3 separate regions of the Homo sapiens genome follow, and regions 2 and 3 are each linked to region 1. Evidence: fine-mapped expression QTL. A gene starts in region 1. Each other region holds a variant in brackets. All regions are shown on one strand. Distances are from middle to middle.

Region 1 (2,768 bases):
GACACAAAAGTTATAACGCCAACAATAAGTTGCCCTAAACAGAGCAATTGTATGTTATATGCCATAAGGAATTAAAAGACTAAAATATCTTGATCATGCAAAGCTACTTACTATTAATTCTTTGAATCATCTCTTCTTTAGTACTTATGTCTTGCTCATACTGGAAGACTAAAATAAATAATTATCTTGTGACTTCAATTCATTGTTAAAATATCAAATGATCATACAAAAAGCTACCTATTTTTTCACTTTATACCTACCAAATTCTAGCAAAAGTCTGTCCAAACTGACAAACAGGCTGTCATTCATCTTGGATACTATGTTAAATGAAAAAAAAAATTATAAGATTTTCTGAAGTCGTATGCAAAACAGGATATATTTCGTAACGACCTTTTCAATATAGCATTCTTCACAGGAACATGTGGGCAGAGCCAGAACTGGAAGACGAGAGGCCCCCTTGAGCCCATGGCGACATTCCCAGCCCCTTCCCGGGCCAAGCCCAACGAGCGCTTCAGAAATCGTTGTTGAGTCGGGGCACGACTTGAAGTTTTGGGGATGGGGTGGGAAGCACCCGCATAACCGCTTATGCGTGGGATTGCAACAAGCATCCGGATCTTCCAGGGTTCACGGACACCCAGATTTCTCCACAGGATATGCCCTTTAAAGTAAACGCTCTGAATATGTCCCTTGGTGGCGTGTGTACAACCACGTGTAGCAAAATTCTAACGAAAGCCCTTCCCCAACACCCGGGTAAACCTAGAGAAACAGTGCGATTTCGCATTTACGAATTTACCACGAAGAATAAAAAAATTGGAGGTTTTCACAGAACAGCCAATTCGCATTACGGCATACGCCTGAGGCGGGGTTCCTGTCTACCGTGCCCCTCAGAGCCCAGGAACCACAGCCCGTGCGCCTCCCGCAGTGGGAGTTCGCCGGCCGACTCCCACCCTCACAGCCTCCTGTCCTGGCTTCCCCTCGCCCGAGGCTGCAACACCGCATCCCCCCCATCCCCCGCCGCGCCCTCAGCCTCGGGCCGCACCAACCCAGGGGATAAGGCGACTCCGGTCGCTCTGAGGGGCAGGGCCAGCCAGCCCCCTCCCACCCACGCACACGCTCCCCCTCAGAGCCGCCGGCCCAGAGAAAAACCGCCACATGCAGCTCCCTTCCACACGCACCTAAACAGCTCCTCTGGACCCGAACGCCCACACCCTCCCTCCCTGGGGTCCCAAACTCCACTCAGGACGCCACAGCGGATCCTAACTACAAACGGTCCCCGGAGCCCTGGGCTGGACTCGCTCAGCCCCGCCCCCACGCCCCTGGTACCAGCCCTGAGAGACCCCGCGGAGCACGCCGCGGGAGCCGCAGATCGCGCTGAAGAGCAGCGAGATCGCGCTCTGGACGAGACCTGCGCGGCTGCAACCGCTCCTTCTTCGCGGGTGGAAGCGCGGAATAAGCCCCGTAAAACCACAGAAGTGGGTGCTGGAGTTAGAGGACCCTCAAAGAAGTAGAGACCTGTCAGAGACTCTCCTGTTTTCTTGAAGACAAGTGTTTTTTAAAGCCTATTTATTCCTCTTGTAACAAGTTTTTAAAAATATTTTGGAGTACAACAATAAAATTGATATTAACTTTTAACAAGAGTAAAAAATACTCAATTCAATAATCAAAATTCAATTCTGAATTCAGCATTTTTCAAAACATCTTAAAAAGCAAGCACAACTCAAATACATATTAGTTGAATGGACATTTTGAGACTGACTCATTTGCTCAGTTTCAAATAAAGTACATTTTCTGCCCAAAATGCTGTCTTTAGGTAATTTATGCTCTTAGGCTTTGTCTGCCTATCCAAAGTGAAATAAAGAGTGTAAACAAAATCATTAAGCAGTTCAGTCCTCCAAAGTGCCTCAATCCTTTGTATATTTCTCGTAGAAATGTTTTTAACCGTAAATGATCACAATAATTGTCTCAAGTCACCAAAACCTAAGCTGTTTCACGGAATATTTAAGTGAAAAAGAAGGTTTCAGAAGTTTTTCTTCCTTAAGTGCCTCAGATCAGATATGCATAACCAATTTTATTATAGTGTGCTGTCATATTGCTCACTAGTTGGTATTAATATTCAACAAAACTAACATGTTTTGATAATGTAACAATTTAGCAGATTTATTCTTTTGTGTGTGTGTGAAAAATCTTTTACTTAGTTTTTCCAGCTTTATTGAGGCATAATTGACAAATAAAAATTGTATTTACCACGTACATGATATTTGGACGTATACATACATTGTGAAATGATCACCACGATCAAGTTAATTTGTATAACACATCCATCACCTCATATAATCATTTTTGGGTGTGTGTGGTGAGAACCTTTAAGATCTACTCTCTTAGCAAGTTTCAAGGACACAATACAGTATTATTAACTATAGTCACCATGCTGTACATTAGATCTCCAGAACTTATTCAATCTGCCTAACTGAAACTTCGTACCCTTTGACCAACATATTTCCTCATTCCCACCTCCTCCCTCCCCCAGCCACTGGCAACCACCATTCTACTCTCTGCTTCTATGGGCTCAGCTTTTTCAGATTCCACCTACAAGTGAAGTCATATAGTATTTGTCTTTCTGTGCCTGACTTACTTCAATTAGCATAATGTCCCACAGGCTCATCCATCATCCATGTGGTCACAAATGACAAGATTCCTTCTCTGTTAAAGCTGAATAAAAGTCCGTGTGTGTGTGTGTGTGTGTGTTTATCCATTCATTGACAAATGAA
Region 2 (2,768 bases), 120 kb after region 1:
CAGTAATGATTCCTTGAGAAGGCAGAGGGCAGAAAGGGAAAGGGATGATTTGCGATGATAGAGTAGGGTATGAAATGGTCATCCATATCCAGTTCAAACTCACCCTTCTCAGTCACTCCAAGGACAAACAAAAACTCATTTTTACAGAGTTAGAGTAAGATATTCAATGATTTGAACATGAAAACTAATGATTTTCTTTCTCTCTGGTCAGCTATTCTTCCTCTTTCTCAAGAGGTCAAGTTTGTTACCAGCAATCACAAGAGCCCTGAGTTCTTCCACACCAACAAACATGGTGCCACTGGGGAATCTGAGACATACAGAAAGGAGGAGGTGAAAAGAGGTGAGGAGGAAACAGAAATGAAAAATGAAAAGAATAAGGGAAAATGAGAAAAAGGAAAAATAGGGCTATTAAAGAACTTATATGACAATACCTGAACCTACCAATCAATATTAACATTACCAAAAGTGAGACATCCGGATATTTTATGCCTTGGAATATGATGCATTCACACTTTGCCACCTGAATCTACTTGAAGTCTCTGGCTACAACCACACCTTTACAGGAAACAAAGGGATAGAAAAACAAGTAACTGTAAAACCACACTACAAGGAAACATCAGCCAAATCCAGACATTCTATGGGATGAATGACCTAATGTCTTAGGTAGAGTTCTCTAACAAACAGACTCTGAGACAGAGAGCCATGTGTGGGAGATTTATTGTAAGTGATCTCAGGGAATATACCTATAAGAGAGAGAGGCAAACAGGATTGGGCAAAGGGAGAAGTTAAACTGCAACACAGTTGCAGTGGAGAACTGGGCCAATCCCATAGGGTGCTCTGGCCATTCCAAGATATCCTACACAGAGGCCAGAAGCCAGGCCATTTTACCCTCACAATGACCTTACTCATATACTCACTCACTATGTAAAAAAGTAGGGCCGGGCACAGAGTCTGGCCACCTGCTCTTGCAGCTCATCTGTGCCCCGTCGCTCATTCGTGTCCAATCCCATATGCACTACTTCCAGTTTACAATGGATTCCTTATGGGCCCACCAAATCTTATGACTTGGCGGTTCTGACAAAATCCAGCCTGACCAAAAGGTCATTATATATTCCAGCATTACCAGGGCACAGTAGCTTCAGGGAGCTGTATTTGTGATTGGCGTGTAATTCTCTACTGCAAAGGGCATGACTTTGTGCCAGACCCTGGGCATCTATATGTGATTTTTCTACTGGAGTTTGTGATACACACCTTTACCCACTGTAGATACTTCCAGTATCACAGTCTGCAGGTCACAGGACCCAAGTGGCAGGGCTGCTTTCGCCACAGCCTGCACCTGCAACAGACCCCTTTCCTTCTCTGGGCCCCTATCAAATCTGGAAATATTCCATGGTTGTTAGCAAATGATTAAAGCAGTATTCCTAAGTCTAGAATATACTGTCCCCAAGAACCCAAAGCTACCTACCAAGTGTTTTGCTTCCTTCTTAGTAGCAGGAGGTGGAAGATA[T/C]TATAATTTGTCGTTTACTTTGGAGAAAATGTCCTGGCATGTCCCAGACTACTAGGATCCTTAAAACTTCACAGTTGTGGTGGACCCTTGAATGTCTGTAGGGATTATGTCCTACCTTCTGGAGCACAGAAGTCTTTAACAAGGTCTCTGTATTAGTCTGTTCTCATGCTGCTAATAAAGACATGCCTGAGACTGCATAATTTATAAAGGAAAGAGGTTTACTTGACTCACAGTTCAGTATGGCTGGGGAGGCCTCAGGAAACTTACAATCATGGCAGAAGGGGAAGCAAACACATCCTTCTTCACATGGTGGCAGCAAGGAGAAGTGCTGAGCAAAAGGGGGAAAAGCTGCTTATACAACCATCATATCTTGTGAGAACTCACTCACTATCACGAGAACAACTGGGGATAGCCACCCCCATGATTAAATTACCTCCCACTAGGTCCCTCCCATGACACATGAGGATTATGGGAACTATAATTCAAAATGAGATTTGGGTGGGGACACAACCAAACCATATCATTCTGCCCCTGGCTCCTCCCAAGTCTCATGTCCTCATATTTCAAAACACAATTATGCCCTTCCCAACAGTTCCCCAAAGTCTTAACTCATTGTGGCATTAACCCAAAAGTCCAAGTCCATAGTCTTATCTGAGACAAGGCTAGTCCCTCCCACCTATAAGCCTGTAAAATCAAAAGCAAGTTAGTTACTTCCTAGATACAATGGAGGTACAGGCATTGGGTAAATACATCCATTCTAAATGGGAGAAATTGGTCACAACAAAGGGGCTACAGGCCCCATGCAAGTCTGAAATCCAACAGGGCAGTCATTAAACCTTAAAGTTCCAAGATGATCTCCTTTGACTCCATGTCTCACATCCAGGGCATGCTGATGCAAGATGTAGGCTCCCATGGCATTGGGAAGCTCCGCCCATGTGGCTTTTCAGGGTAAAGCTTCCCCCCAACCCCTCCCAGCTGCTTTCCCAGGCTGGTGTTGAGTGTCTGTGGCTTTTCCAGGCACATGGAGCAAGCTGTTGGTGGATCTACCATTCTGGGGTCTGAAGGGTGGTGGCCCTCTTCTCACAGCTCTGCCACCCAGTGCCCCAGTGGGGACTCCGTTTGGGGCCTCCAACCTCACCTTTACTTTCCACACTACCCCAGCAGAAGTTTTCCATGAGGACTCCACCCCTGCAGCAAACTTCTGCCTGGACATCCAGGCATTTCCATACATCCTCTGAAATCTAGACAGAGGTTCCCAAAC
Region 3 (2,768 bases), 87 kb after region 1:
AAGGGTAGTAAGAATGGCATTCAGAGTGGAAGCTGAAGGTGAAGGTGGGCACAGAAATGAGACCCAGTCTCTCCAGAACAGATTGTTCATGTTAGAATAGAAGGAAATAAAACTTAAAAAGGAAGGTAAGATCCAATTTTATTTTTTTGTTTTTTAAACCAGAACATTTATTGAGTGACTAATCATTGAAATTCTTTTTTTTTTTTTTTTTTTTTTGAGATGGAGTCTTGCGCTGTTGCCTGGGCTAGAGTGTAGTGGCAAGATCTCAGCTCACTGCAACCTCCGCCTCCTGGGTTCAAGAGATTCTCCTGCCTCCACCTCCTGAGTAGCTGGGATTACAGGCATCCGCCACCACACCGAGCCAATTTTTTGTATTTTTAGTAGAGACAGAGTTTCACCATGTTGGCCAGGCTGGTCTCGAACTCCTGACCTCGTGATTTGCCTGCCTCGGCCTCCCAAAGTCCTGGGATTACAGGCATGAGCCACTGCAACCACCCAAATCATTGAAATTCTTAAGATGAACTGGATGCTGCAACAGCTGCCCTCTTTGGTTTATGTGTTGTTCCTTCATGGAATCAATGCTTGAATCTGAGATATACAATTTTTAGGTGCCTCATCCGACCAGTCCCAGTGCTATTTCGTCTTTTAGCCTTGGCACCCCAGTTACACTTCCTCTTGCGCTTGGCAGGGTAGCCACGTTTGCCACAGGTTGACATCTGAAGGTGGTAGGCCTTGGAGCTGCAGTGGTGGCACAACATGCGCATCTTCTTGTGACGCTTTCCCAACGACATTCCCTTCATCTTGTTGCTTCTGTGGTCGACACCAAAGAGATGGGAAGAGCAGATCCAATTTTAATGGAATCTTCAAAGTTATGCAGAAATGTTTATAATATGTAAAGCCCTTAGTGCAGTGTCTACTCATAATTGAAGGCTTGGCTAATATTAGTTGCTGTTGTGTTGCTGTTATTGTTGATATTGTTGTACAATGAAGAGCCATAGGAGACTTTTAGGAGATGTGCCACAGAAAGCAGTGCTTTATAAACTTATTTGGCTGTTATGCACAGGATGGACTGAAAAAGGAATAACTGAAAATGAGAAAACCAATGAGGCAGTGGTCTAGGAGTAAGGCAATGAAAGAAGAGAAATGAATAAATAAATTCTACTGCAACTAGTA[T/C]TTTTTTGTCTGTCAGCCATTTCTCCACATGACACCAAGTGGACAGTCATAAAAGCAAAATCTTCCCGTATTAAGAACCAGTGATGCAGGGCCAGTGGCATGCAACTGTAGTCCCAGTTACTTAGGAGGCTGAAGTGGGAGGATTGCTTGAGCCCAGGAGTTCGAGGTCAGTCTAGACAACTTAGAGGAACACCATCTCTTAAAAAAGAAAGAAAGAAAAAAAGAACAACAGAAAGAACCTGTAAAAGTAGGGTTCAGTAATCCTATAAGGCATTTAGGGATTACTACAGCACTCTCCAGGGTGACGTCTATCTCTTGTGCTTTTGTGAAGAGTGAAATTAGGCAGCATAGTTACCATTTATCCAACCCTTAGCCTGCTCCCTTAGACCCTGGACCCTCCAGTGTATCCACAGTAATACCTTGGAGGGCATCTCCATTCTTCAGAAACACTGCCTTTACGAACTCCACCTAATGCCATAGAATCTACCCAGGTGCCAGGTGCCAGGTGGGAATGAAGCCTTCAGCTTCTGAAAAGAAGACAGAGCCAGTCAGTCTCATGGTAACTGTCCCTCCCTCACTTTGATGGGATTGCCTCCACTTCTGCATAGAAGACACGCATTTCGACATGTCTGAGAACTTTAGCCAATGGCACCAAGGCTGACTGGCCTTCTTTCAAAAATTCCTTAGTTGACTTCTACCAAGTGACTATATAGTGCTGCAGGTTAGAGCAAGTAACTTACAAACAGTCCATGTGGTTCTTAATGGCAGTGTTCAGGAAGGTAATCTTGGGAAGATTCTGAAGTGTTTTGTGTCTCAGTTTGTTGCTCTATGTGCCAGGAAAACAATCATAATCACTCACAGGGAGATTTAAGTCTTAACTAATGTTTGCAAAACACCTTGACATCCTCTAATGAAATTGCCACATCTAAATGACATATAATTAGAGGCAGGCTTGTACCTATGATCTTTGAGAAAAGAAACGCACAAAGAAGTAATAATTTGCACATCTATCATTGTTCATTCCATGATCAAATTCTTAACAAATACATATCACCATCCTAACTTTCTGGTTAAGAAAGCAAGTCTTTAATAGTTAAAGCACTTGAAATTACTACATCACCTTCTACTCCTATAGCCAAGGACACATCTGCTTTTACCAGTCCAGCAAATCTGAGATCCAGTCCAACTTATTTAAACACAGCAGGGAGAAAAAAAAATCCCAGACCCAAAAAGGTAAATGACTTGCCCAAGGTCGATCTAAATTTGGCCCCAGAAACTTATTCCAATTTGACAGCTTCAATTTTTAATTTTTCAAAATAGTCTGAATTGACAAGTTAAGTCACCAAAAAATAATTTAAAAAGCAGAAGAAAAAAATTTTTTTTGGTTGGGATATCAGGCTAATGTGAAATAGAAGTTATTCTCTATGCCAACCAGGGTAAGGACTCTTGAAACGTCCTAATTAAGTGGATATGAGCCAATGATTTCTCTTCCAAAATATTTTAGTTTTGCAAGTAATGTCCCTTCCATGTCTGAAAAAGAGCATTTCTAAATGCATAGCAGATTTCTCATATTTTCTCTGGAAGCCTTCCCCAAG

Which allele goes with the higher level. Alleles are on the strand shown, and positions count from the first base shown. SD is a standard deviation of normalised expression in the study named.
For the expression in skeletal muscle of the gene that starts at base 1,294 in region 1, allele T in region 2 goes with a lower level than allele C (moderate effect, 0.63 SD a copy in GTEx).
For the expression in minor salivary gland of the gene that starts at base 1,294 in region 1, allele C in region 3 goes with a higher level than allele T (moderate effect, 0.67 SD a copy in GTEx).

The links. PIP is the estimated chance that this variant, and not a neighbour inherited with it, causes the effect.
Region 2: its variant is the best candidate, but not a certain one, in a credible set for the expression of C14orf39 in skeletal muscle (GTEx, PIP 0.81).
Region 3: its variant is the best candidate, but not a certain one, in a credible set for the expression of C14orf39 in minor salivary gland (GTEx, PIP 0.51).

Annotation. Positions count from the first base shown.
Region 1 is chr14:60,484,770-60,487,537 of GRCh38, forward strand. C14orf39 (chromosome 14 open reading frame 39) reads right to left here and starts at 1,294. Exons shown (of 18, transcript NM_174978.3): 1 at 1,176-1,294; 2 at 261-317; 3 at 112-168. The coding sequence starts at 309.
Region 2 is chr14:60,609,259-60,612,026 of GRCh38, forward strand. No RefSeq gene overlaps it. Among named protein-coding and RNA genes, the nearest start is that of SALRNA1, 29 kb to the right of the region's middle. The variant T/C (reference allele first, on the strand shown) is at 1,508.
Region 3 is chr14:60,571,512-60,574,279 of GRCh38, forward strand. It overlaps the pseudogene RPL37P5. Among named protein-coding and RNA genes, the nearest start is that of SIX6, 64 kb to the left of the region's middle. The variant T/C (reference allele first, on the strand shown) is at 1,174.